Linked DNA regions of Homo sapiens: regions 1, 2 and 3 are each reported to be linked to region 4. The links are microRNA targets in miRTarBase. Many come from high-throughput screens and were not tested one by one. Region 4 holds a microRNA gene; each other region holds the end of a gene's coding sequence.

Evidence for each region. Region 4 holds the annotated microRNA hsa-miR-320d (AAAAGCUGGGUUGAGAGGA, at 2,639-2,657, shown strand). A microRNA usually pairs through its seed, bases 2 to 8, with sites in the 3' UTR of a target mRNA and lowers its output. Matches are read on the target gene's strand: a 7mer-m8 pairs with bases 2 to 8, a 7mer-A1 pairs with bases 2 to 7 and ends in A, and an 8mer does both.
Region 1: miRTarBase lists BCL7B as a target of hsa-miR-320d. Seed matches in the 3' UTR shown: 7mer-m8 at 1,977-1,983.
Region 2: miRTarBase lists CREBRF as a target of hsa-miR-320d. Seed matches in the 3' UTR shown: 7mer-A1 at 2,429-2,435 and 8mer at 3,629-3,636.
Region 3: the mRNA of SYNM is a reported target of hsa-miR-320d. Seed matches in the 3' UTR shown: 7mer-m8 at 4,910-4,916.

Annotation. Positions count from the first base shown.
Region 1 is chr7:73,531,495-73,538,617 of GRCh38, reverse strand. It overlaps BCL7B (BAF chromatin remodeling complex subunit BCL7B), which reads left to right. Exons shown (of 6, transcript NM_001707.4): 5 at 605-684; 6 at 1,228-2,262. The coding sequence ends at 1,320. Among named protein-coding and RNA genes, the nearest start is that of BAZ1B, 13 kb to the right of the region's middle.
Region 2 is chr5:173,132,948-173,140,070 of GRCh38, forward strand. CREBRF (CREB3 regulatory factor) reads left to right here. Exons shown (of 9, transcript NM_153607.3): 9 at 683-6,337. The coding sequence ends at 798. Among named protein-coding and RNA genes, the nearest start is that of BNIP1, 8.0 kb to the right of the region's middle.
Region 3 is chr15:99,132,552-99,139,674 of GRCh38, reverse strand. SYNM (synemin) reads right to left here. Exons shown (of 4, transcript NM_145728.3): 4 at 4,082-7,123. The coding sequence ends at 6,617. It overlaps TTC23 (tetratricopeptide repeat domain 23), which reads left to right. Exons shown (of 14, transcript NM_001288615.3): 13 at 276-358; 14 at 1,548-3,352. The coding sequence ends at 1,665. TTC23-AS1 (TTC23 antisense RNA 1) reads right to left here and starts at 358. Exons shown (of 2, transcript NR_186223.1): 1 at 1-358. RefSeq lists an enhancer at 2,410-2,911.
Region 4 is chrX:140,921,706-140,928,828 of GRCh38, reverse strand. It overlaps MIR320D2 (microRNA 320d-2), which reads left to right and starts at 2,598; the gene lies at 2,598-2,669.

The DNA of each region.
Region 1 (7,123 bases), not on the chromosome of region 4:
GTCTTGAACTCCTGGGCTTCAAGTGATCCTCCCACCTCAGCCTCCAGAGTAGCTGGGATTATAGGTGTGAGCCACCATGCCCGACCCAGGTTTCTTGTTATAATATGGATATATAGATGTGTCTTAGGCCCTTGTTACCTTCTCCTGTGCTGTGACCTGTTAACAGCCAACTACAAAATGGAACTTGTTTCTCCATGGGAAATGCCAATTGTAGTTAATATTTATTGTGTTCTTACTATTTGGCATGTGCTGTTCTTAGCTCCTGTGTTTTATTACTTCATCTCGTCCTCATAGCAACTCTCAGAAAACTGGGAGATTGAGTTAGAGTTGTGATGTTTGGGCTAGAGGATGACAAGATGAGCTGCTTTGTCGGTTCCAGATATCTCCAGCCCAGCAGAGATGGCCCTCTGCAGTCTAGCCGTATTTTGCCCTTCCACCATTCTTGGCTGTGACCTGGTCCAGCTGGGCCCTGAATGAATGTTTGCTTCTCAGGCCAGTATTCTCCCCTCCTCACCAAGCCACCTCCACACAGCTCTAAGGAAGCTCCCCCAGGTCCAGGCCTCAGGGGAGCCCTGCCCTCAGGCCGACCCTACTGCCTTTTCAGAGCCCTCCCTGCCCTCCTCGGAAGTTGCTGATGAACCTCCTACCCTCACCAAGGAAGAACCAGTTCCACTAGAGACACAGGTAAGCAATCACTTTGAGTTTTCCAGTTTTTTGTTTTTTTGGTTTAAGGCAGGGTCTCGCTGTTGCCCAGACTAGAGTGCAGTGGTGCGATCCTGGCTCACTACAACCTCCACTGCCTCCTGGGTTCAAGCAATTCTCCTGTTTCAGCCTCCTGAGTAGCTGGGATTACAGGCGCCCACTACCACACCTGGCTAATTTTTGTATTTTTAGTAGAGATGGGGTTTCACTATGTTGGCCAGGCTAGTCTCGAACTCCTGAGCCCAAGTGATCCACCCATCTCAGCCTCCCAATGTGCTGGGATTATAGGTGTGAGCCACTGTGCCCGGCCAGGCTTCCCAGTTTCTAAGTCAAAAAACCAGGAAAGACTGTGGATGTGGGGTTGGATCTGCAGCGCCGGAAATGAGTCCCAGGGTTGTAGGCAGGGGAGGATGTTTGATCATCTGCTGGAAGGAGCAGAGTGGACATCCCATTATAATTCGGGTGGGTGGGAAGGTTCTGGTTGGGAGGGGTGGCCCTGGCATTCCATGCTCTGCCTGCTCCTAGGTCGTTGAGGAAGAGGAAGACTCAGGTGCCCCGCCCCTGAAGCGCTTCTGTGTGGACCAACCCACAGTGCCGCAGACGGCGTCAGAAAGCTAGCACCATCCCGGCCCTCCGCCTCCTGGCCCTGCCTCTATTTATTGCATTCTGGTTCTGGCCGCGCCGCGTTGCTGGGGTAAGGGCAAGCACTGGGGTCAAGAGCCTGCACACATGAGCCTTCCGGGCTGGAAGGCTGGCGTAGGACTTGGGGCTGTAGCATCATCTTCCTGACCCTGGCACCTGTGTCTACTTGCTCCCGAGAAGAGGAGCGCTCATGTCTTTTTTGCACCCCAAGTTGGCTGGAGCATCGGCCACCCCAAGATTCATCTGTGACCTCCAGGCAGCAGTCTCTGCTCCAGAATCTCTGGACGGAGCTGCTGGCAGCTTCTGCGAGAAGAGAGAGATGTGGAAGGCACCTTCTAGAAGAGAGCGTGCCTCAGGTTACTTGAACTTGAACGGAGACTGTAGACTCCCGGACTTTCCCCTAGGACTGGGGGCCCTGTAGGCTGCTGTTGGAGGACTGGGTAGAGACATTGGAGGGAAGGGAAGGGCTTTTCTCCACACAAGGGCAGAGAGTCCGTCTAGATTTCTTGCTGTCCTGCCAGCTCTGCCCATGCCTGAGGTGGTCCTACCTCTCACGGGCACCCTAGCTGCTGACAGCCCTTTGTGGCCGCCGTCCCCATCCCCTGCCCTCAGCACACACATCTGCACACACGCAGCTTTGTTCTCACCTCTACCTGTCATTCCAGCATCCCTGCCTCTTGTCACAAACTGCCCCAGCAAGAATTTGAGGTTCTGACAACAGTACCCATCCCCCACAGTACCCCTTCAGCTCAGTTTCTAGAAAGCTCCCTTTTCTTTGAAATCTGCATGTTGAATTGAACTTTGTGATTTTATTTTTTGTTTCAAAAAAGTTTAAGAAAATGGAAATGGGCAACAGTGAGTGAAGACATATTTTAGCACTGAATAGAATATTTTTAAAATTAAACTATTTGAAATATGTCCTGTTGGTATCTGAGTGCTTCCTTCTTGAAGGTTGCGGGCCGGGGTGGGGGTGGTGGCTGAGTGCTTGTGGGGTCACTGTGGGCTGGGCCTGCCCATCCTTTCACTCCCACAGTGTGGACTTCATGACAGTGATTTCTAGCCTCCCTTTGAAGCTGTCACGTAGTTCAAATTATGCTTCTCGCTGGGCGTGGTGGCTCATACTTCTTATCCCAGCACTTTGGGAGGCCGAGGCAGGAGGATCACTTGAGGCTAGGAGTTTGAGACCAGCCTGGGCAACACAGCAAGACCCTATCTCTATCTAAACAATATTTTTAAATTAAAACATAAAAACCAGGCCAGGCGCAGTGGCTCCCGCCTGTAATCTTAGCACTTTGGGAGGCTGAGGTGGGTGGATCATCTGAGCTCAGGAGTTCAAGACCAGCCTGACCAGCAAAATGAGACCCCATCTCTACTAAAAATACAAAAATTAGCCAGGCATGGTGGCAGGCGCCTTTAGTCCCAGCTACTTGGGAGGCTGAGACGAGCATTGCTCGAACCTGGGAGGTGGAGGTTGCAGTGAGCCAAGACTGCGCCACTGCGCTCCAGCCTGGGTGACGGAGCGAGACTCCATCTCAAAAAACAAAACCAAATTCCATCCCTGTGTACACCAAATGCAGCCCATGGATGTGTTTTCCACAGGTCCATGTAGTTCGGAGGGATTCATGAGTTCTTTTTTTCCCCCCTTGTGGTAAAATACACGTAACATAAAAGGTTTTTGTTTGTTTGTTTTTTGAGACAGAGTCTCACTCTGTCACCCAGCAGGCTGGAGTACAGTGGTGTGTTCTCAACTCACTGCAACCTCTGCCTCCCAAGTAGCTGGGATTACAGACGTGCACCACCACGTCTGACTAATTTTTGTAATTTTAGTAGAGGTGGGGTTTCACCATGTTGGCCAGGCTGGTTTCGAACCCCTTAGGCTCCCAAAGTGCTGGGATTACATGTGTGAGCCACTGCACCTGGCCAAGAGTTACTTTTGTCACCATTGTGAAGTGTGCATTTCAGTGGTACTGAGTACTGAGTACATTCACAGTGCTGGGCAGTCCTCACAGTCCAGCTCCGAACTTTTTTATTATCCCAAATGGAAACCTCATGTCCAGTTAGCATCATTCACCATTTCTTCCCCTCCCCTCGGGCCCTGGCAGCCACAGATCTGTTTATTTCCCGGAGTGATTCCCCTCATTTCTCACAGGGGCTCCAGGTGTCATGGATGAGACTATAATACAAGTTCTACTGTTCTATGTTTTGTTTTTGTTTTTTTTGAGACGGAGTCTCGCTCTGTCACCCAGGCTGGCAGTGGCGGGATCTCGGCTCACCGCAAGCTCCGCCACCCGGGTTCACACCATTCTCCTGCCTCAGCCTCCCGAGTAGCTGGGACTACAGGCGCCTGCCACCACGCCCAGCTAATTTTTTGTATTTTTAGTAGAGACGGGGTTTCACTGTGTTAGCCAGGATGGTCTCGATCTCCTGACCTCATGATCTGCCCGCCTCGGCCTCCCAAAGTGCTGTGATTACAGGCATGAGCCACCGCACCCGGCCCCTGTTTTATCTTTTCTTACAAAATATAAATAGGGCTGGGGCTGGGCACGGTGGCTCACGCCTGTAATCCCAGCTACTCGGGAGGCTGAGGCAAGAGAATGGTGTGAACCCAGGAGGCGGAGCTTGCGGTGAGCTGAGATCACGCCACTGCACTCCAGCCTGGGCGACAGAGCAAGACTCCATCTCAAAATATATATATATATATAAATATTTTTATATATATAGGGCTGGGCACAGTGGCCTGTAATCCCAGCACTTTGGAAGGCTAAGGCAGGAAGATTGCCTGAGCCTGGGAGTTAAGACGAGCCTGGGCAACATGGCAAGACCCTGTCTCATTAACAAATACAAAAATGTAGGCCGGGCGTGGTGGCTCACACCTGTAATCCCAGCACTTTGGGAGGCTGAGGCGGGCGGATCACGAGGTCATGAGTTCGAGATCAGCCTGACCAGCGTGGTGAAACCCCCATCTCTACCAAAGATACAAAAAATTAGCCGGGCGTTCTGGCACATGTCTGTAATCCCAGCTACTTGGGAGGCTGAGGTACAAGAATCTCTTGAACCTGGGAGGCGGAGGTTGCAGGGAGCCCGATTGCGCCATTACACTCCAGCCCGGGCGACAGGGTGAAACTCTGTCTCTAAAAAAATAAGTAATAATCTTTTAAAAATGTAACAGCCAGGTACAGTGGCTCATGCCTGTAATCCCAGCACTTTGGGAAGATCGCTTGAGCCCAGAAGTTCGAGACCAGCCTGGGCAACATGGTGAAACCTCATCTCTAAAACAAAAACAAAAATTAGCTGGGCATGTTGGTGCATGCCTGTAGCATCCCCTGCTCGACGGCTGAGGTGGGCGGATCTCTTGAGCCCAGGAGGTCAAGGCTGTCGTGAGCCGTGATCATGACACTGCACTCTAGCCTGGGCGACAGAGGGAGTCTCAAAAAAAGAGACATATAAAATCAAATTGTCAAATGAATTTTACAGATAATGTGATTGTATGTGGTACACAAAATACGTATTTTTTTTCTGAGACAGAGTGTTCTCTGTCACCCAGGCTAGAGTGCAGTGGCGTGATCTTGGCTCACTGCAACCTCCGCCTCCCAGGTTCAAGCAATTCTCCTGCCTCGGCCTCCTGAGTAGCCGGGATAACAGGTGCCTGCCACTGTGCCTGGCTAATTTTTGTATTTTTAGTACAGACGACGTTTCACCACCTTAGCCAGGCTGTTCTCGAACTCCCAATCTCGTTATCCACCCACCTCAGCCTCCCAAAGTGCTGGGATTACAGTCGTGAGCCACTGCGCTTGACCCTTTTTTTTTTTGTAAAGACAAGGTCTCACTATGTTGCCCAGGCTGGACCCACCTCGGTTTCCATTTCCCAAAGTGCTGGGATTACAGCCGTGAGCCATCATGCCTGGCCAACATAACTGTTTTAATGTGTTTAAACAAAGGAAAGTATAATGGGCTGGGTGCAGTAGCTCATGCCTGTAATCCCAACACTTTGGGAGGCTGAGGAGGAGGACTGCTTGAGTCCAGGAGTTTAAGACCAGCCTCAGCAACAAAGGGAGACTCCATCTCTACAAATAATTTTTTTTTTTTTTTAGTTAGCTGAGTGTGGTGGTGCACACCTCTGGACCCATGTACTCTGGAGGCTGAAGCAGGAGGATTGCCTGAGCCCTGGAGGTCAAGGCTGCAGTGAGCCATGATTGCACCACTGCGCTCCGGCCTGGGCAACAGAAAGAGACCTTGTCTTATTAAAAAATAAAAATATTGGCCAGGCGTGGTGGCTCATGTCTGTAATCCCAGCACTTTGGGAGACTGAAGCAGATGGATCACTTGAGGCCTGGAGTTCGAGACCAGCCTGGCCAACATGGTGAAACCCCATCTACTAAAAATACAAAAATCAGCTGGGTGTGGTGGCACACACCTGTAATCCCAGCTTGAGCCCTGGAGGTGGAGGTTGCAGTGAGCCGAGATCTTGCCACTGCACTCCAGCCTGGCCTGGGCGACAGAGCAACACTATGTCTCAAAAAAATAAATAAATAAAAATATTTTACAAATACAGTTGTCCCTTGGTATCTGGAGGGGTTGGTTCCAGGACCCTGGTGGATACCAAAACCTGCAGATGCTCAAGTCCCACAGTAGGCCATGTTCTGCATCTCTTGAATCCGGTATTTTTGATCCACTACCAGTTGAATTTGTGGATACTGAGGGACAACTGTATTTGTTGCAAACATAATCTTGGTAGGTTCTTTGTAAAGTATAACTGGTAAACACATGGTCACTGCCTTTAAGGAGCTTATGGTCTGATGCAGCAGAGAAGGTGGAGAAGTAGGAGCCATGAGGGGTCGTGAAGGTGGAATACCATTAGGGTCTGGAGAAGAATCTTGGAGGCTTTGAGATCATAGAAAGTTTATAGAGCTGGGCGTGGTGGCTCACGCCTGTAATCCCAACACTTTGGGAGGTCAAGGCAGGCAGATCACCTGAGGTGAGGAATTTGAGACCAGCCTGGCAAACATGGCGAAACCCCATCTCTACTAGAAACACAAAAATTAGCCGGGCATGGTGGGCACCTGTAGTCCCAGCTACTCCAGAGGCTGAGGCAGGAGAATCACTTGAACCTGAGATGTGGAGGTTGCAGTGAGCTGAGATCATGCCACTGCACTCCAGCCTGGACGACAGAGTGAGACATCTTAAAAAAAAAAGTTTATAAAATAGGTGGTGTTTGAGTTGGGCCTTGAGAAATTTGGATATGAGATCTTTTTTTTCTTTTTTCCTTTGAGATGGAGTTTCGCTCTTGTCCAGGCTGGAGTATGATGGTGAAATCTTGGCTCACTGCAACCTCCAACTCCCGGGTTCAAGTGATTCTCCTGCCTCAGCCTCCCGTAGCTGGGATTACAGGCATGCGCCACCATGCCTAGCTAATTTGGTATTTTTAGTGAAGATGGGGATTTGCCATGTTGTTCAGCCTGGTCTCGAACTCCTGACCTTAGGTGATTCACCTGCCTCGGCTTCCCAAAGTGCTGGGATTACAGGCGTACGCCACCACGTCAGGCCAAAAAAATTTTTCTTTGTAGAGATGAGATCTCACTATTTTGCCCAAGCTGGTCTCAAACTCCTGGGTTCAAGCAATCCTCCCACCTCTGCCTCCCAAAGTGCTGGGATTACAGGCATGAGCCATTGTGCTCGGCCTACAGATATTCCCCCCCCCCCCCAGCTTTTTGGCTGAATTACTTGAAAATAGGTTGCAACATTATGACTCTGCTATGGTTTGAATGTGTCCTCCCCAAAA
Region 2 (7,123 bases), not on the chromosome of region 4:
CTATTTCCATCCTTTTTATTTTTCTTAATACTTAAAAAAATGTACTTATACCTCTGTTATTTGATTTAGTGATTTTATCTTTTGGTCTTACTATGGAAGATGAGGAAGATGAGAAAATCTACATACTTATGCTGCTCCCACCTTTCTCCCTCTTCTCTTCCAACATTTCTTATTCGTTCATTCACTTTTTTAAATGAAGAAAAGGAAACTTAAACTGTATCCAGTAATTATAAAAATGACCCAAAACATCCTTCAGGTCTATATTTTCAGTTTCATGGGTGAAACCTACCCATGGAACTTGGTGAGTTTAGAGTAATTGGAAGAGACTGGCTGAGAGAACAGGGAAAAACCAGGGCGTGGGAAGCAGTGCCTGTCGGCAGCCTTTGGGTTTGGGTTTGGACTGTTATTTGGACTGTTACACTTGTCATCTACCTCACTTTAAATGTTGGTTTATGATTTTTCATGGCTATCCTTGGTTTGACTTTTCTAATCTTAAAATTTTAGACAGTAATATGAAGGGTAGCATTGTTTTCTGAGCTGCAATAACAAGTGCCAGGGAATTCATTTGGGACCAGTATCAAGCTGAGGGCCACACCTGAACCTCAGTTTTTACCAGCTCCTTCCCTTCCCTTCATGGCCTTCCATTTTTGTGTCTAGATGTGCCTTTTATTCTTCTCTTCAGGTCTACCAGTTGCTGGGCAAACCTCAGAATTTGTTAACCAAGTGTTAGAGAAGACTGCAGAAGGGAATCCCACTGGAGGCCTTGTAGGATTAAGGATACCAACATCAAAGGTGTAATCAGCCTCATTGGACCACTGGTCAGAAATGTCTGCGTTTTGTCACGTTATCCATTGTAAATTTTCATTCTGTTTTGCATGTCAGTTAGCATTATGTAAACATTTACAATTAGGTTACATTGTTTTAAGAACTAAGTAGCATAAGTGAAGCATGATCCAAAATACTTGATTATTGCATTTTCAGAGCATAAACCATGATTAAAACTGCTACTGGCATCAGAATTGAAAATCATATGTTTAAGTAAATGTTAGGTACAGATTACAAAAATCTGTTAAAGCAAAACATTTTGGAGGAGTGAAATAGTAAAATGCCAAGTATTGTGGCAGATTTATGCTCTGAACCACACAAAAAAATTGAGGAAGCATTTTTTTAAACAGTCGGTTTAAATTGTTTTTAGAATTATTGCTTTTTGTTCTAATTTTCCACAACCATTAATCTCACTTGTATATGGCACACCCAGCACTTGTGCCTGTGGGCCATATTAGATGTTCATTGTCAGAGCTCAAGATGATATATATAAATATATATATATATATATATATATACACACACACACACAAATGTCTGTGCAAGTAAGAAAAAAAAAGCATATTCTTTGTGCCTTGTATTTTGGGGAAACTCTAAAACTGGTAATATTTTGTATGATGAAAACCCTAATGAGAAAAAACAAGATATATAGATGGAAAAATTATGGGGTTTAAATGTTTTTTTGTTCCAACTCTTTTTCAGATTTTTTGAATGTATATAGGACTATGTTGAAATGTAGATATATGCCACAGAGTCTGTGTATTGTATAAAAAACAAAACAAAAAACAACAAAAAAAAGATGGCTCTAGAAAACTCATATTTCGGTACTTGACCGGAAGAAGACAAATACTTGCACATTATTGCGATTGTTTTATTTTTTGTACCAAAGACAAATGCAACTGATATGGCAAACTGCCAGTCTAAGTAAAGTTTTGCACAGCTTACATGATACTGTATGAATGTATGAAAAAAAAGGAGAAAAAAAAGAAAAAAAAAGGTCAGGGTTAGGGATCTTACTGAACTGTGAATTTTATTTCTGTTTGGGTCCAATTATCTACAGAAGGAGCATCCATACATACAAATATTATTTTGCTGTTCCTCTAGTTCGCTTCCATAGTAGATAAGTTGGTGGCCATTTAGATGTCTTTTATTTCTGCACTTATTGTAGGAAATTTTAATATATTTCATTTTAGTAAGCTATTGATAAAATAGTTTTTGACTTTGAAAATTAAAATGTTTATTTAGCTTATTGTAGTATACTTCCACCAGACAACAAAATAGATTATTTTTATTGTATTATGTATATATATATATGTAAAGAAAGAAAAAAGCTAAAAATATCTAATTCTTTAGTTGCCACTTTTCCGATTGATGTATTATTGTGCATGTAATATTTTCAAAGATCAACACAGGCTAAAACAAAAACAATTTATAGATTTTTATATTTTTGTACAGGTATTTTCAAACTAGCTTCTTCAAACTTAACATGTGACTTATTCTTCTATAGTTTCTAGAATTGAGAAACATTAACACATTTAGTTTTTAGGTGCTCTTTTTTGCTCATATAAAACAGCTTCATTAGTCAGTGTTTTAACTGTGTTCAAGCTTTACCTCTTGATGAGAAATTTCTTATGTCAAGGCAGCATTATAAACCTTCCCCCACAGATTTTTCCATCCTGTCTCTCTTACTGTTTTATTCTCAAATCTTGTGCTTTGAACTCTGAAAACTGGTGGCTTAAAAACTAAAAAAAGAAAAAAAGCATATTTAGCAAGGAAAAAAATACCAAAAATTTCAGGCATAGCTGCTGGAAAAATTATCTATTTCTCCATTACCCACTGTAGGATTTCTTTTTTAATTATACTTTGACTATAAAGTGTCAAAGTATAATTTGTTCTTTTCTTTTACTTTGTTACCCCATTTGTAAGCTATAGCATATGAAGCTATATATATAGCTTGTGAAGGTTTGATCTAGAACACCCAGTAACAAATGAACAATGTTGCTTACCTGCTTCTTTGACATCTTAAAAAAGAAATCCAAGGAGGATTGTAAGGATTGTCTTACCACCTTAGCTGAACTGTGATGCACAAGATTTTTCTATGTGTTTGGTGGAAATGTACCTGGTTTGTACATTCACGCTAAACAGATGATAAGCTCAAGTCTGATGGTTTAATAGAATGTAAGTTCATCGTTTAAAGCTTTTCCTTTTTAGGTTGGAGAAGGCAAAACACAGGCTTGCAAGTTGGAAGTATATGAAGTCTTGACAGAGTGTGTCTGGTAAATTGAAAAGTGTTTCAAACTATGGCAGTTTTGCAATCAGGTGAAAATCACCTCATGATATTCAGCTGATAAGGTTTATAAAATTGCCCCTTTCTAGCTGCTCTGTTAGGAATTCTGGTTTTTGATACTTTTTTCCTGTCTGCAAACCAGAATTTGATTTTTTGGTCTTGCATTTCAAAAAAAAAAAGACTTTGAATCTGTTTAGTAGATTCCATATCTTTGAGTTTCAGTGTTTTATATGTACTACTTAAGTTAAATAGTTAAAAGCTTTTAAATAGTTGAGCTTTTTAATGTTGACACTTTATTTTGTACCTATTTATATATGTATGTATATCTTAGAAAAGCACTTTGTTAAAAAAAAATTGCATTTTATATGATTCCTGCCATTTGCTGCTAAATCTGGGCTGGTCAGAATGCTGCAGCGATACTTGATCTATATAAAAACCTGGCAGTAAAATGTAGAGTGAAAGTTAAATCCTCTTGCTGTTTTAACTTTATCATAAAGATGACATAGGCAAGCTGTGCAGCTTTACATTTTAACCAGGGGACTCTGTGGCATTTAAAACCGTCTAGAAATGGTTGTACTTTAATGCCAGTAATAATCTGCTTCCTCTATTGTCATTAAAATATATACGTTTAGTGTATCACACAAACCAATCTTATAAGGGTAATGTAAAAACCCCAACAATTGTACATGTTCTGTTTTTGAAAATTGTGGCATGTATTTTTGGGTGAAGATCATTAGAGAAGAGTTCTCTAAAGGTTTTCTGTGTTCATACATGGTATACAGATAGCTCATAATGAAGTCCAGAATCTTACTTTTAAGTGAAGGCATTGTGAATTCACCTCAAGTAAACCCATTGTTCCAAAGCAATTATAAACTTTGACTCTAGTACTACTATGATTTAAAAAAAAAAAAAACCAACAAAAACCTTTTTTCCTAGTTTCAGATACACTGGATTCTTTATAGAGTTTGTCTCCATATGAAAGCATGCTGTCCAGTCGCTCTTGTTAAGATCTTGTCTGAGTTTTGAATTGGGTGCCACACTTTTCCAGTCAATATAATTGCTTGTTCTACTGTACCATGTATGATTCTTGTCCTTTCCTATATCCTTCATGACAGATTATGATGTGGCTTTATATTGTGCCTTACTTGTACATTTAAAACTAAACGTCTTCATTCCCTTCCACTTCCTACATCTTTAACTTTGACCTTTTTGGTAAGAGAATCAGAACTATTACAAAAGCATCATGAAGGATTTCAGATGGGTATGGTTTCAAATTCCCTCTCTTTATAGTTATTTTATATTTGTATGAAAGACCAGTTTTGGATGGTCTTTGAATATAGGGGGGAAAGATTAGCAGTAATTTCACTACATCCCTTTTCTCTGACTTTCATGCATTTCTCATACATCTTCTTTCTGATGCTTGACTTTATTTGCTTCCTAGCAATAGTCTGCATTTAAAGAAAGGTGTGTTCAATTCATCAGCTTGAAATTGACTATTTCATTTTTCCAGGATTTTTTAGGAGAAGAGTACCCATTTTGTTTTATAAAAACAGATGACAAGTCTCTTTAAAAGAAACAGAAGTACAGTACTTTTGAAATACAATGCTGTTAGTTTGGATTTCTTTTTATATATATATATAATATTCATACAATGATCTGATGTTTGCCTTCATTAATAAAGCTGTTAGTTTATTCACCAAAATGTCAAGAATGGATGTGCTTTTCTTTATTCCACACATTTAAAAAAATTTAGCTGCTAAGATTTAATGTTATAAGAAATGAATTCAAGTTGCCTTCAGCAAGAATTAACAAAAACTTATGTTCCCTTTCTTTATATAGTTTCCTAAAATTCTGTTCAAGTATTTTCTAGTTAATTATGTAACAGAATGTTAGCATCTCTCCATATCTTGAAACTTGAATTTTGAGAATGCATTGAATTATGCTTTCAGTGTTAAAGTAAAAGGTTTCAATTATCCTTCTAGTGAAGTCTGTTGTGGAATACCATTTCCCATGGAACTGAGGCCATTTCCACAACTTTGCACAGAACTGCAGTCTTGTTCTTCCCTTGGATCATGACAAATAAGTCTCACACAGTGCCGTAATACTTGTGGATTCTTTTGTAATCTTTGTAATCTTAATAAGGGCATTATGAGAAGACGACTCCATGTTTTTTTAATACTTCAAACACATTGGGATGTAACAATGAATGTCAACTGTAGGAATGGTGGTTTCGTTTTAAGGAATAAGCATGTTGGGGAAAGATGATGAAAATGTACTACTGAAAGTTATACACTTCCATAGGCAAATGGGATTATGTGTTGAAGCATAGTCCTCATGCTTAATAAACTGACTGAAATCGTAGAAATTACACCTAGGAACTGAGCTAGGCCAAATTGCCATTTTTGTTTAGAGAGTTTTGGAGGTAGTAGTGAGGGGACAGAGCCTTAAAACTACTTCCAAACAGTATTTTGGAATTGAAGACTTGGTAACTAGTGAAGAACATCAAAGTTGGGTATTTCAATGTGCCAAGTTTGGGTGAACTAGGTTCGGTTTGCCTCTTTCATAACAATGTAAACACAATGGTGTAGTTAATTAAATTCTGGGTGGATAGGAGCAGGACTGATTACTATGTCTTGCCCTTCGCCCTTTGTTTTTTTCAGAACCAAATAACAGAAATGTGTATGTGTGTACTGTATCTGCCTTTCCACCACATTTTTATGACACTGTATTCCACTGCCTGCTTTTTTACCTTCTTTCCCTAGGATTTGTCCTACAGCTTAGTATTGTGGTTGACAGCGATACTAGGGCTGACAGCACAGAAGTCACAAGAGAAGAGTGGAAGGGCAAGAATTCAAAGCATTTGTTCATACAATGTGGCAACCTCTTTTGCATAGTTGCGTAGGATCCTGTTTGTAATGCTATCATAAATATTCTGTAGTTTTTTTTTTTTCTCTCCCAACTGGAGCTATGACACTTTTTATTGGATTCAGTCTTGTCTCTTGTCTAGAAAGAACTTTATCTTGTTGACGCATGAGCTGTTTAAAAATTATCCTATTAAATGTTGGTTAATAGTTGTGCAGTTTTTCATTTCAGATGGAAAGGCAATGCAAATTTTGCCTTTGTTTTCTGTCACCTTCCAACCCCTGAGCACTTCTAGTCAGATACAGATTCATCAGTGTATGCAACATCCTTTGTAATTTAAAATAAAAAAAGATGAAAAGAAAACGTTCTGAATTGTTTGCCTCATGTTTTCGCCCTTCCTTTCTGTACTTATATCTTGCTTACCTAGGTAACCATCCGCTCCTCAAGATAACCTATTCCAAAGAAATTCCAAATCACAGAGAGTGGTGAACTGCTGGTCTGCTGCCCCTCTCGTGGTAATAATCAAAGAGCTAACATTTTTTTGACACTATAGGTTGATTTTTCAATATTTTAGTGACATTTAGCTATTATATAGAATTATTTGTTGATGTAAGCATTTGCATTCTTCACAGCTTAGAGGATATTCTTATTTCTCCTCTTTTAATCTTTGGGCAAGTGTTCTGCATGGGAAATAAAATATTTTGGGTCTCTCCTGATTTAAACATTTGTATGTGTTTGTGTGTTTAATCACTCTAAGTAAGTCTCCAAACTAAGCTGGGCGTATATATAGAGGCTTAAATCCAGAGACCTAAGTGAAGGCTTCCATCAGAGTATGTGGCTGAAAGTCAGCCAGCAAATATTTGTTGAGCACTTACTCTGCCAGGACCTGTGCTAGGTACTGGACAATAGAGAGATGAAAGAGAACTCCAGGAACTCAGAGCCAGCATGTGAACAGGATTGCAGAACAACACAGGAGCTGTTACAGATATGCAAAGGGCTCTAGGCACATTATTGTTGCTGAGGTGTTTTCATGGACACATCCAGTGGTGTATTAGAGAATTGATAGACTTGGGTTCTTAGTATCCTGGACCCTTGAAGAAACCCTCTTTGTTTCATGTGAGTGACATTAAGGCCATCAGGAAGCAAAGG
Region 3 (7,123 bases), not on the chromosome of region 4:
TTTATTTTTAAAAATACTACTTTTAAATCTATTTTTTGCATACAGATAGTCACAGAGAGTTTTGTGAAATAGTGCTAAAACTGTTCACTTTTGCCTAGATCCCTCAGAACATCCAAACCAAAGGTCAGTCACTAGGAGACATCCCAGGAGCATGCTAATTCCATCACAGCAGGGCCTAAGAATGAGGTCATCTTTCTCTCATTCAAGGGAGACCTTAGTTTCCTGCTCTCAGCGACACTTCCATAGCCTCATGATAGCTGCTTGGTGTTCTACAGTGTCTCCAGATCCAGACCCTCTTATATGGACCGCAGGACAAAAGGACTCTGGCCACCCAGCAGGCCATGGGCATGCTGTCCACGTGAGTTGGCGTCCCTCACACTTTCTCTATCTCATTCCCTTTCCATTCAGAATCTCAAGAGAAAGCTGGTTCTAGAAGGTTCTGTGTAACCTTCTCTGGAATGTTTTGCTGACTTCCCATAACTTGCATAAAGGACAAGTTCCTTTGAAACCCGAGTTGTAAAAGATCTTCCTTGCCCAGGTATTTAAAAATAATTCATCCTTTAAGTCAGAAATATATGCTGGATGTTGTCTTCCTGCAGACCAGCCCCTGCAGGCTAAGGCACCTGCTGCAGGGGGAGGGCCCCGGGAATCCCTGTGGCCTCCTGCAGCCCTGCTTCCGGCTTCCCTCTGCCCTCGGATGCCCGTCAGGACTGGAGCCGGAAGGTTCACTGACTGACCTTAAAGGCTGGCCCCTACGTCCTTTCTCAGCCCGAGCAGAGGCCCAGCGCTCTGCCGTGGAGGGCCTACCTCACAGAGCCTGGTCCGCAGAGAGCAGCCCCAGGGCTGCCTGAGTCTGCTCAGGGAAACAGGGCCACAGCCCGGAGCAGACACAACCTGGCCAGCAGGGCGCCATCCCCTTTGAGGGCAGGGAAGGCGAGCCAGGGAGGCCTCCAGTGCAACCCTGACCATCCTCCTCACCCATGTCCTGCTCACCAAGCCAGCTAAGGGTTGAGGGCCTCAGCTCAGTGAGGATGGTCACAGGTGATTTTAAAAGATGGGAGGGGCCAGGCGAGGTGACTCATGCCTATAATCCCAGCACCTTGGGAGGCCGAGGCGGTGGATCACTTGAGGCCAGGAGTTTGAGACCAGACTGGCCAACATGGCAAAACTTCGTCTCTACTAAAAATACAAAAATTAGCTGGGCGTGGTGGCATGTGCCTGTAATCCTGGCTACTCGGGAGACTGAGGCATGAGAGTTGCTTGAACCTGGGAGGCGGAAGTTGCAGGGAGCCGAGATGGGGCCACTGCACTCCAGCCTGGGTGACAGAGTGAGACTCTGTCTGAAAAAAAAAAAATTAAAAAAATAAAAGATGGGAGGAAAACATCTCATGTTTTATGCTCTGTGCTACAATTCTCCTCTCATTTATAGCCCCTACCAAGTCTTCTCATAAATGGGTCTGGGCACCTGCTGGGCAGCAAAGGCTGGATGGGAACGGTGTGGGGGGCTGAGGGGCACCACACTCACCCCACCCTCTGCTTGTCTGCAGGGCCCCCAAGGTTGCTTCGAAGCCAAGGCAGGCATCAAAAGCCAAAGTGGCCTTCTGCACCAGCATCCCTCAGGACACCCTGCTGGGGAAGGCCCGGCCCGGCACAACAGCAGACTGAGGCCCCCACCCTGAAAAAGCCTAGGACATTCCTGGGCACTGTCATTTAGGGTGCTGTACAAATCACCTCCGCCTAGAAAATGGAATTCAACAGTCAGGATACAGATTTCCAAGGCCAACTGTTGGCCCCAACATGCAACAGTGAGACCATAAGCCTCCCGTGGGCCACATTTTGACAGTGGATGCCCTTCAGGGTGATATATGCTATAAAGCAGTTTTCTATCACCTAAGTGGTTTTTCTTGCCAACAAGAATTTTTACCCATCAGCACTACTGTGGCTGAAAAACTTCTCTTCAACAGTTCAGTGCGCCCTGTGCAGGAGTCAGCCCGGCATCTGCTTGTACACACAGCTCCTTGCATAGGTGTGGAGTTAGATCTGGACAGTGAACTTCAGGAAGTCCTTTCTTATAGGAGGCTAATAGGGATTGAGAATAACATGAGAAGAAAACGCTAATAAAGGGAAACCTGAACACGCTGCTGTCAGCATGTGTTTTCAAAGTGCAGCCTGCCTCAGAGTTCTTCGGAGCCTGAAAAGGGGTTTGAGAAAGAGCCCAGTAGGAGGGGCAGGAGGCCGACACACCTGACTTGGCCTGGGGCCCAGGAGGCAGGTGTAAGGGAGTGAAAAGAAAGGCTAGCCGGAGGCTGCGGGGGGAAGACCGCAGACTCCCTGCTGCTTCGCATCCCTCCTGTGGCCTCCACTGCAGGCAGGACAAACCTGGATGCCACCTGGAGCTGCTTCCTGAGTTGGCACACTATCGTGTACACAGCAGTCTTCAGCCCCCTGGAAGGAGGCCATAGTCGTGTGAGGATGGCAAAGTCGAACAGGAAGCTTTGAGTGCCTTCCTCCACGATGTCAACGAGGAGATCCAGTGCCAGATCGAGGTGGATGGAACACCCAGGGGTAGGGGTGCAGGTGTGGGCAGTGATGTCCCTTCCCCTCCCTCCCCTGGTCCCACAGACTGTGGCCATGAGGCTGCAGGCTGGTGCTATGACAGCAGATTGCAGCACAGGGCCCTCCCCTCCAGCCCCCAGTGGGACATCAAAACCACCCTGGGGCCATTTGTGCAGGGCACCACCTCCAGTATTGATGGGGAAAATAAACTCAGTAGAGCCACGACAGGGTGGAGAGAAGCAGGGACCATTGTCTTCCTCAGGAGCGTGACAGCTGACCCCACAGACCATGCTTGCTGGTACACACTGGTCCCAGACCCAGGCCTGTCGGACATCAGCAGTGTGCTAAAAACGTGTAAGATGTCACTACTCACCGTGTGTCCTATCTAGTTGACATGGGTGGAGTCAGCTAAGGGGTGAATGTTCATATGCTCCCAATTCACGTTGAAGCCCTAATCCCCAAAGGGATGGTATTGGGGGTGGGGTCTTGGAGAGGTGATTAGGTTATGAGGGTGGAGCCCTGATGAATGGGATTAGTGCTTTATAAGGAGAGACACCAGAGAGATGATCTCTCTCTCCACCATGTGAGGACACAGTGAGAAGACAGCCGTCTGCAGGCCCGGAAGAGAGCCCTCACCAGGAAATGAAACTGTTGGCACCTTGAGACTTCCCAGCTTCCAGAACTGTAAGAAATAAATGTTTGTTGTTTAAGCCTTTCAGGCTACGGCTTTCTGTTACAGCAGCCTGAACTGAGAGTCCATGCCGAGTTTTTGAAATAAATGTGAATTCTGATGTTACTTCTTCCTTTCTGTACTTCTTGAAGCGTAGCTTGGAATCACAAAAACTAAAACACATTTTTAAAATTTAGCGCCCCCACCCCACCCCACCCCAGGAAGCAATGAATTTAGGAATGTTCCCTCCAATGTCTCCCATCTGTTAATTCTGTTGACTTCAACGAGAGGAAGACTATAGCTACTTGTGTTTTTCTATTTTTGGTAAAGGGCTACAAGGTTACAAACGGGTAAAGATATCTAGCTATTCCTTTGTCTCAAACTACCTCAGTTTTTTCAAGCCCCTAAGAAATGGCCATGCCTTAGGGTTAACCCTCCAATTTGCACTTATAAGGTAACCAACTGTCCTGGTATGCCCAGGACAGTCCTGGTTTTAGCACTCAAAGTACCACATCCCAAGAAACCTCTCCATCCCAAATGGGATGGTTGGTGGTGTCCTACTGCCACTAGTCATTCAGGCTGTGATGATGACATTTTTACCACAAATTGTCCAGTGTATATTTGATTACAAGCCAATTGGCTTATGCTCTGTCTGCCAGGCTTTCTAGCTCTGTGCTCCCAATATTGAGTTCCGATTCAGGTGAGGAATTAGAGAACTGGAACTTTTCATATATATTCTGCCCAGTAATTCTCTGCTACCCTAAAAACATGCATGTAAACACACAGATTCTTTACTTAGAGTTTAAAGGAAACATCAAAATCTACTGAAAATATTCATTCTCTTTAGGAACAATGTGGGTTTTTTCCTCAGATTTTTATTTTTGCACATTCTTGTGACATTTCCCATTGTAGGGAACAGGAGTTTAGCAAAATCAGCTTCTTAGATGATGTCATTCTAAATATACATCTTAAACAAACAATATCAAAACCACCAGTAGGAAACTGAAAAACACTCAGTGAGTACTGTTTTGTCTCAGTAACAATAAATACAAAAAGACTGGTTGTGTTCCGGCCCCATCCAACCACGAAGTTGATTTCTCTTGTGTGCAGAGTGACTGATTTTAAAGGACATGGAGCTTGTCACAATGTCACAATGTCACAGTGTGAAGGGCACACTCACTCCCGCGTGATTCACATTTAGCAACCAACAATAGCTCATGAGTCCATACTTGTAAATACTTTTGGCAGAATACTTCTTGAAACTTGCAGATGATAATTAAGATCCAAGATATTTCCCAAAGTAAATAGAAGTGGGTCATAATATTAATTACCTGTTCACATCAGCTTCCATTTACAAGTCATGAGCCCAGACACTGACATCAAACTGAGCCCACTTAGACTCCTCACCACCAGTCTGTCCTGTCATCAGACAGGAGGCTGTCACCTTGACCAAATTCTCACCAGTCAATCATCTATCCAAAAACCATTACCTGTTACAGCTAAAACAAAATCAGCACATCTCTGTCTGTATTAGAAACGACAAAACCTTACAAAGCAGTCACCTCCATACCAGTCTGACAATCACTAGTTCATTTGGCAGATGGACAACAAAGGTTTAAACTTGCTATTCCAATCAACTTTCTTTCCCTATCTGATTCATGGTGTTTTTAAAATAGTATCTTGAAAGCTGTGCTGCATTTCTCCTCCACTTATCAATGAAGAAAACGTGCTCTCCAGAAACTACCTGCGGTAGCCACTCCCAGGACCTGGGGAGACGTGCACCCTGGGGGTCTGAGGGCCTCCAGGTGAATCTGAGAGGGAAGACCCTCCAGTGCTGTCGTTGTAGCCTGGCTGAGGGTGGTGCTAGCTCAGACTGTTATTCCCCAGTGCGCCACAGTCAGTGCGATGATGCTGTGTTACTGGAAATACAGCTGAGACAGCATTATGTGAAAGAAGCTAGCCTGAACTAAAAAAAATGCGCTGCTAGCGAAACTCTTTTTATATATGATGCTACACTTTACAGACAGAAACTTTAAAACAATACTGACGTGTAAAATAAAATGAATCCAATGAAGCATGCTCATCCCAGTATCTTAAACTCGGTGGTGCCTATCTACAGGTCCACACTCCGCGGCCCATGAGCATGGGGGCCTTTCTCGCCCCCCAGGCCCGTCCTGGGTATCTCGGTGCTGGGCTGCAGGAGAGATATCCAGTTCCTTCCCCAAAACATCCTTCTATTTAATAAACTGTTTCCCTGGACAAAACACCCCAACTGCAATGACTTCTGTTCAAAGTGCAAAAAAAGCTTCCGTGAGGTGGGTTCATGGTTGTTATTGTATTCATCTTTCACCCTTGAGCTCAGAAAGACCTGCATCCCATGAATGGAGGGTTGGGAAAGGCATCTTTAAGAGGCACAGTCCACTGTGTGCTTCCAATTTTCCTGTACACAGCCAGCTTGCCGGTCCAGCTGCAGTCTGAGTATCGGCATTCTCTTCATTGTCTTCAAGGTCTACCTCCCACCAGTGAAATTAAATGTTTGGGTGCTAAGGGATAAGGTGCAGAGAAGCGCAAGTCTGCACAGTCTGATAGGAACTGGCCACTCCAGAAAAGGGCATTCAGACTGTGTGCTACTTAATGACCTAGTGCCAAAAAATGAAATGGTACTGTAAGCGATTCCCAATAATCATCTACCCTACCAGTGCCAGGGAACCTGTGCAAATAGAATGTGAAATATCACAACAGACTACAGCTGTCCTCGCCATAAATACTATATTGTTTAAAGTTCTGTACATAGAAAGCAATTCATTCAAGTCTTAAGATGAATTTAGCTCTATATGGCAAGTAATTTTTTCCTAAAGATGAAATCATTTAGCAAGAATTTTTTTAACATAAACAGTCTGCCTATTTCCCATTTCTTTTTGAAAAGACTTTTTAGAGTCTAAATTGTATTTATTTTTCCCCTAAAATGTTAGTCTGTTATTTCATATTAGCACATGCAAGCAAAATTTACTCTTAAATATATTACTTTAATCTGGTTAATGTTTTGACATCTATAATTAATTGTAGTTTCAAACAGATGCAAGCCATGTCTGTGACCAGGTGCAAAACATAGAAATTCATCTCCAGAAGTGGAGAGAAGACTCCAGGGAAAAAAGTGTTTTGTAAAAGTCCCAACTCAAAAATAAAATTGCAGTGCCTTTTAAGGCATGAATTAACTGGAAACCTTTACGGATTAACTATAAAGGAAATTGACCATGCCGGGAGTACTCTTTAAAAAAGTAAAAAAGGGGAGATTTTCATAGACTCCCTCGGCCTCTTAAAATAAGTTAAGGCCTTTGGATGTTGGCACGTCGCCAACAGGCTGCCATTAAAACAAAATGTTTCTGCTTATTAAAACCAATGCCCATCATTCTCCTCCTCCTCATTGTCTAGATAGAGGAGGGCAACTTTCTTTTCATCTGAAATCACCGACCTTTGGTCTACCATTCTCTGGAGCTGCACCTTCTTATCAAACATGGCCTGCTCCTTGCCCTGTTCTCTGTGGGCCTGGTCTCCTTCCCCAGCAGAGGCCTTAAAGCTCACACCAACTGCCTGGTCATTCCTACTGTCCGCGTCTCTCCAGGAACCACGGTCAGACACACCGAGAGCTCCCGCTTCCTGTGTCCGGCTGCGGATCGCCTCTACGTTACTCACATCCATCTGAAAGGTAAACGAAGTTTCTTTGGGCCCTGGTGCAATGTGCCTTAGCGTTCTGCTGCTGTCTGCTAACTTGCCTAGCTCAGGGGAGTCCGCTGAACCAGCAAGCACAAATGTTCTGGACACGGGTCCACGGATGGCAATGTGTTCAGAGGTTTCCGTTTCTGTAGGACCTAGTCGAATGTGCCTAAAGGATCTGCT
Region 4 (7,123 bases):
CCTAGGAGGCTTTCATTAGGATCCTTCACGGAGTTTGGGGTTTATTTTTAAAATTATTTTAAGACAGAAAATTGAATCACTTGTCCTCATTCTATCACAACACAGTCATTCATTTATTCAATCATTTAGCACCTTATTCATTTGGTCAACTAATATGTACTGAGTATCACTTATTTAATTTACCAAAATCTACTGTGTGCTAGGAACTACACCAGGCACCAAAATGCAATGTTCTCTCTGGCTGCCAGTACTGGTGACAAATGCTAGGATGATGAAAAAAGATTAACACTGCCATCTGAGATGTGTCAGACATCAGCCTGACCAGCTTGTTTCAATTCACTTTTTTTTTTGTCTTCTCCATCATTCATTCATTCATTAACACAAGTATATACTGAGTGCCAGGCACTGTGTTAGCCACTAAAGATGTAATCGAGAGCAAAATCAAAGTCCCAGCCTGGAGTGGTGTCTTCTCTGGTGGAGAATACAGCTATTGATCAAAGAATCACACAAGAAATAAACAATTGTAACTGTGGCAAGTTCCCCGACAAGTCCATTGTGGCCCTCATCCGCGCCCTCAGCTTCATAGAGTACAACCAGAGCAGCTGCATTTTAGTCTCTTTTATGTATTGGGCTTCCAGGTAAGATTAATTGAGGGAAAAATTGGGGTTTGATTTTTAAAAGTTGGAAAGCCACTATTCTATGGCATTTAACTCTGTTATTATATTGGCGATGAATTTTTTTTTCTACTGAATCTTTGCAACTATATGTCTCAAATATGAGATGCACTTTCTTAAAAGTGATTTTTAATCTTGCTGACAGATTATTATTTCCCTAGGATCTCAAATTCCCTCATTGTGTAATCATTTTCTCTAAGATTTTCATCTATCTTTACATCCCAAATGAATCAGTATCAGCTAAATAAATAACTAAATAAATTAATAAAGCAAGAAAGGAATTCCTCTTGACTCACCTACTTCTGCACAAGGAGATTATCTCTAATGCAAACCCAATTCATTCTTGAAGAGGGAAATAACCTGCTAGATTGATCTATAATCAGACACTAAACCCCAATGACCACCCCAACTAGGTGCAAGCATGCTTGGTGTGTCGAACAAAAATGTCTTTAACTTCTACTTACTGAAAAATTTTTTTGATAGTGTTCATCTATGATATCACACTTATTCTTATCCCCTTCAAAAGAGCAACTGCAATATTTTACACTTGTATGATACCACACAATTTAAAAAGAACCTCAAATGCAGAACCTCATTTGATCCTTAACCAACTCAGTAACTTACAAGTAGTATTTGGAAATGGTCTCACCCAACTAGCCAGACACATCTGTCGATGCTTTACTTTTGAGTTTGGGGGATGTCTGCTTGCTAGTGGTAATATTTGTGTTTATGAAGTTCTGAACTACTAACAAGTGAAATAAAGAAAGAAACTTGTATATATTTTCTATTTTATATGGTTTCTATTATGCCCTCACCTCCAATTTTTCACTTACTCGGTTTTCAAGAAACGAGATTATACCGGGTACAAGCAAACCTTAAAGATGTGGATGCTGACTGGTTAAACATGGCATTTTAGCCAAACACCGTACCTTAGCTAACCAAACTATGTCCCTATCTTCATTTTGCAAATAAGATATTGAGGTACACTCATGCTCCTCCTAATTGTTTTAATGTTTTTGAGCAGATGGTACAGCCCTAATTCCACTGAAACAAACCATGGTGGGTTGAATAGGGACCCCAACCCAAAAGATATGTCCGCATCCAAATACCTGGAATATGTGAATGTTGCTTTATTTGAGGAAAGGGTTTTGTAGATGTAATTAAGGTAAGGATCTCAAAATGAGATTATCCTAGATTATCCAGGTGGACCCCAAAACTGATAACACGTGTCCTTATAAGAAACAGAAGAGAAGAGACAAACACATAGAGGAGAAGGTGATGTGAAGACGGAGGCAAGATTGGATTGATGCTACCACAAATCAAGGAATTCTTGGAGCCACCAAAAGCTGGGAGAGGCAGGGAACAAACTCTTTTCTAGAGCCTCTAAAGCAGCAATCCTCAACCTTTTTGGCACCAGGGACCTGTTTCATGCAAGACAATTTTTCCACGTACTCAGGGAGGTGTTGTTGGGGGGCGGTTTTGGGATTAAACTGTTCCACATCAGATCATCAGGCTTTAGGTAGATTATCGTAAGGAGCATGCAGCCTACATCTCTTGCATGTACAGCTCACAATAGGGTTGGTGCTCCTATGAGACTCTCATGTGGATGCTAATCTGACAGGAGGTGGAGCTCAGGTGGTAATGCTCACAGGCCCACTGCTCACCACTGGTCTGTGGCCCAGGGGTTAGGGACCCCTGCCCTAAAGGGAGTGTGGCCCTGTGGACAGCTTATTTTCAGACTGCTGCCACTGGAAATTGGGATTCTCCAGTCAATTACTTGTAGCCATTTTTCACATTAAAGTCTGTATATTCACTGTGTTCTTAGAGCCCTTGTAAAGCTAACCAGCTCTTATCACCTTTAAGCAAGTGGGAACTTTTAGCCTTTCTAAAGTTGTAATTCTACTTCTGAAATGTCTTCAAATGTATCAATAAGCCTTCTCTTCCCAGTTCTTCTTGGAGTCAGGAAAAGCTGGGTTGAGAGGAGCAGAAAAGAAAAAAGAAAAAAAAATCGTTATTTTTAAATTCAAGAAAAAAAGCTGGATTTCCCACTATTATATTGCCACAAAAAATTACTTATTTTAATGCACTCAAGTAAGCCTTGATATTGTGGGTTGTTGGAGAAAAATGCACTATTTCCTGTCTATAAACATCTAAAGAAGAAAAAACATCTAAAATAATCACATTTAGTATTCTTGCAGTATGATTTGGATGCACTTCTGAGGTAATCTCTATTTTACTTAATTTTTATTGCTCCAGTTCAGTTAGCTAGAGTTTTTTATGTTTAGATAGTGTGTATGTGTGTGTGTGTGTGTGTGTGTGTGTGTGTAATATGGGGGTGGCAAGAGGCTGTTTCAGTAGACCATCAAGTTATTCAATTTGTATGCTACTGCTCTAGCTGGATTTCACATATGATATTATTTACTATATTCCTTATGCATTAGGTAAAATAACAGTGGAAAGATAGAAATGTTTTTTACTGAGAATTGCTAGCATAAATTTGAAAAAAACAGCAAATCTGTCAAATTCTTATCATATTTATGCTATAAGACACTTACTGAAAGAAAAAACCCTCTTTTTATATAGCTTATAATTGCAATCCAGATAACATAAAACATTTCTCATTATGGAGGAAAATATGAATGTAAATCTTATCTACATAAAAAGGTTGATGTTTTATTTCATTTCAAAATTCACACAAAACATTTTGTGACTACTTCTACTTTGAAAAGACAGAGCAGATTTATATGAATTTTTATTAATTGCTTCAATCCTTCCTGGCTTTGACAGCCTGGAGTCCTGGAAAGACCATTGGACCTGATTTTAGAAAGCCTGCTCTGCTACTGTGTGAGCTAAGTGTCTGGAAACCTAGATTCTTAATCAAAAAACATGAAGATAAAAGAATCTGTACCACCTAGATCAAAGAGTTATTACCAACACATCTGCCTAATAAAATCCCACTCATCCTTCAGTGCTGTATTAGTCCATTTTCACACTGCTATAAAGAACTGCCTGAGACTATAAAGGAAAGAGGTTTAATTGACTCACAGTTCAGCATGGTTGGGGATGCCTCAGGAAACTTACAATCATGACAGAAGGTGAAGGGGAAGCAAGGCACCTTCTTCACAAGGTGGCAGGAAGGAGAATGAACAAAGGAGGACATGCCAAACTCTTATAAAACCATCAGATCTAATGAGAACTCACTCACTATCACAAACAGTATTGTGGAAACCACCCCCATGGTTCAGTTACTTCCACCTGGTCTCTTCCTTGACATGGGGATTACATAGGGATTACAATTTAACGTGAGATTTGAGTGGGGACTGATAGGGTTTGGCTGTGCCCTACCCAAATCCCATCTTGAATTATAGCTCCCATAATTCCCATGTATCATGGGATGAACCCAGTGGGAGGTAATTGAATCATGGGGGCAAGACTTTCCCATGCTGTTCTTGTGATGGTGAATGTCTTATGAAATCTGATGGTTTTATAAAGGGGAGTTCCCCTGCACATGCTCTCTTTCCTGCTGCCATGTAGGAAGTCCCTTTGCTCTTCCTTCATCTTCCACCATGATTGTGAGTCCTCCCCAGCCATGTGAGTCCATTAAACCTCTTTCTTTTATCAATTACCCAGTTTCAGGTATATCTTTATTAGCAGCGTGAGAACGGATTCATACAGGGACACAGCTGAACCATATTAAGTGCTAAGACCATCACACCTTCCTGTGAGGCAGTGACTTCTAGAGCTGCACATTGGAATCACCTAGGAAGCCAGGGCCACTCCCAGAGATCCTGAATTGCCAGCTTGGGTGGGGCATAGAGCCAATAAAAGCCCCTTGGGAAAACTGGCCTCCTATCTTGTCTGCACAGTCCCTGTACAGGGTTCCTGACCTGTGGTAAGTAAAGAATGTCACTTTCTAACAGGCCTAGGAGCCCCTTGTTATCTTGGGATCTCAAGAGGAGAGGAATTTACTCAACTCATAGGTATTTGAGGGTACAAACCCATGACTGTGCTCAGCTTTAAAAAAACTCTTATCTGAGATTCCTTTTATGGAACAAAGTTCCATCAAAGCCAATTTTAAAGGCCTATATAAAAACAATTATTCTTGCTGCACTTTACACAAATAATCAGGCCAAGTATAATAAAGCAAATCAGTCTTACTATGATTTGTCTTTCATAAAAATGGGATACTGGAGAGAGAAAAATATGTTTCAAAAACTATGATATACCTGTTACTCAATTATAGTCTCATCAGTTGTTTTTGAGTTTTTTTCTGCAAGTTAGACTAACTCTGCTTATTCCTGTGAACCAACCAGTGATCTCTGGCTGCTGATCAGAAGAAACAAGAGGGATGGTTAATGTAATAATCTGGATCAGTATTCTAATTCTGGGCATGTATTGGAATGTATAGCATGTATAGCAATTCCATATCAGCTTGGTTCCAACAGCTGCCCAGTTCATGGAAAGCCTTCTTATTGAGTTTACTTGGGATGGATTTACTTTTTTTTACTTTACTGTTGTGGAATATATTTGCTGTTGTACTCTTTGTGTAGGAATGATGGATAAGCTTACTCAACGTTTTCTTAAACTGAACACTTACTAATCTTCCAGATATTACCTTTTGTTGGAGTTACAAATGGCCTTCACCATACTGACAGTTTCTGACTGAGCTCCTCTCTACCCTGAATACAAGAGACCCTAATAGTTAGGTAGGAATATCATTGTCTTTATTCAGCCTGAAGAAGTTACAGAAGATGGACCTTCCTCCCTCTACAAACCTTAGGATTAAGCGTTCCCTTGTATAAGGGAGGGGGGAAATGTCAGAGGTGTTTGAACCAGAGTGACTCCATCTTGAATAGGGACTGGGTAAAGTGAGGCTGAGACCTACTGGGCTGCATTCCCAGGATGTTAGGCATTCTAAGTCACAGGATGAGATAGGAGGTCGGCACAAGATACAGGTCATAAACGTCTTGCTGATAAAATAGGCTGCAGAAAGGAGCCAGCCAAAAGCCACCAAAACCAAGATGGCAACGAGAGTGACCTCTGGTCGTCCTCACTGCTCGTTATATGCTAATTATAATGCATTAGAATGCTAAAAGACACTCCTACCAGCACCATGACAATTTACAAATGCCATGGCAATGTCAGGAAGTTACCCTATATGGTCTAAAAAAGGGAGGAACCCTAAGTTCCCCGAATTACCCACCCCTCTCCCAGAAAACTCATGAATAATCCACCCCTAGTTCGGCATATAAACAAGAAATAACCATAAAATAGACAACCAGAAGCTCTTGGGGCTGCTCTGTCTATGGAGTAGCCATTCTTTTATTCCTTTACTTTCTTAATAAACTTGCTCTCACTTGAAAAAAAAAATGTGTTCAAAGCCCCGCAGGTTATTTATTTATTTATTTATTTATTTATTTATTTATTTTTTGAGACTGAGTCTCGCTCTGTCGCCCAGGCTGGAGTGCAGTGGCGTGATCTTGGCTCACTGCAAGCTCCGCCTCCTGGGTTCACACCATTCTCCTGCCTCAGCCTCCCGAGTAGCTGGGCTACAGGCACCCACCACCACGCCCGGCTAATTTTTTTGTATTTTTAGTAGAGGCAGGGTTTCACCGTGTTAGCCAGGATGGTCTCGATCTCCTGACCTCGTGATCTGCCCACCTCGGCCTCCCAAAGTGCTGGGATTACAGGTGTGAGCCACCGCACCCGGCTTCTCCCAGGTAATTTTAATGCATAATCAGAGTTTAGAATTCATTTCAACTCACAGTGGCAGAACTCATTCTTATCTTGTTGATCCTATTTTTTTCCTCAAGTTTGACTGAGGTTTAATTGGCAAGAACAAAACTGGAAACGTCACACCTTCTGATTTCAAAATATCTTATAAATATTTACAGTAATTAAAACAATATCATGCTAGCATAAAGACAGACATATAGACCACTGGAACAGTATAGAGAGCACAGAAATAATCCATGCATGTACAATATGCTCAACTGATTTTCTACAAGGCTGCCAAGAACACACAATGGGAATGGACATTCTCTTCAACAACTGGGGTTGGGAAAACTGGATATCCACATAGAAAATAATGAATTTGGACCCATATCTTACACCACACATAAAAATCAACTCAAAATGGATAAAAGAATTAAATGCAAGACCTGAAACGTTAATACTAGATGAAAACATAGGGGAAAAGCTTCTTGTTGATACTCCCAATTTAATCAGTCTCTATTTAAGTGAACTGCTAGACCAAGTGAAGTGCTTCAAATCTTCTATCGAACGTACTGACAAGTACCTTCAGGAAATTTACAACAAATAGGTTACCATCTGAAAATAGCAATAACAGCAGAAGTTTGTGTAAGGTACTCTTCCAAGCACTCTACAAGTACGAACTCATATACTTCACACAGTAACACTATTATAATTTTCATTTTACTGATGAAAAC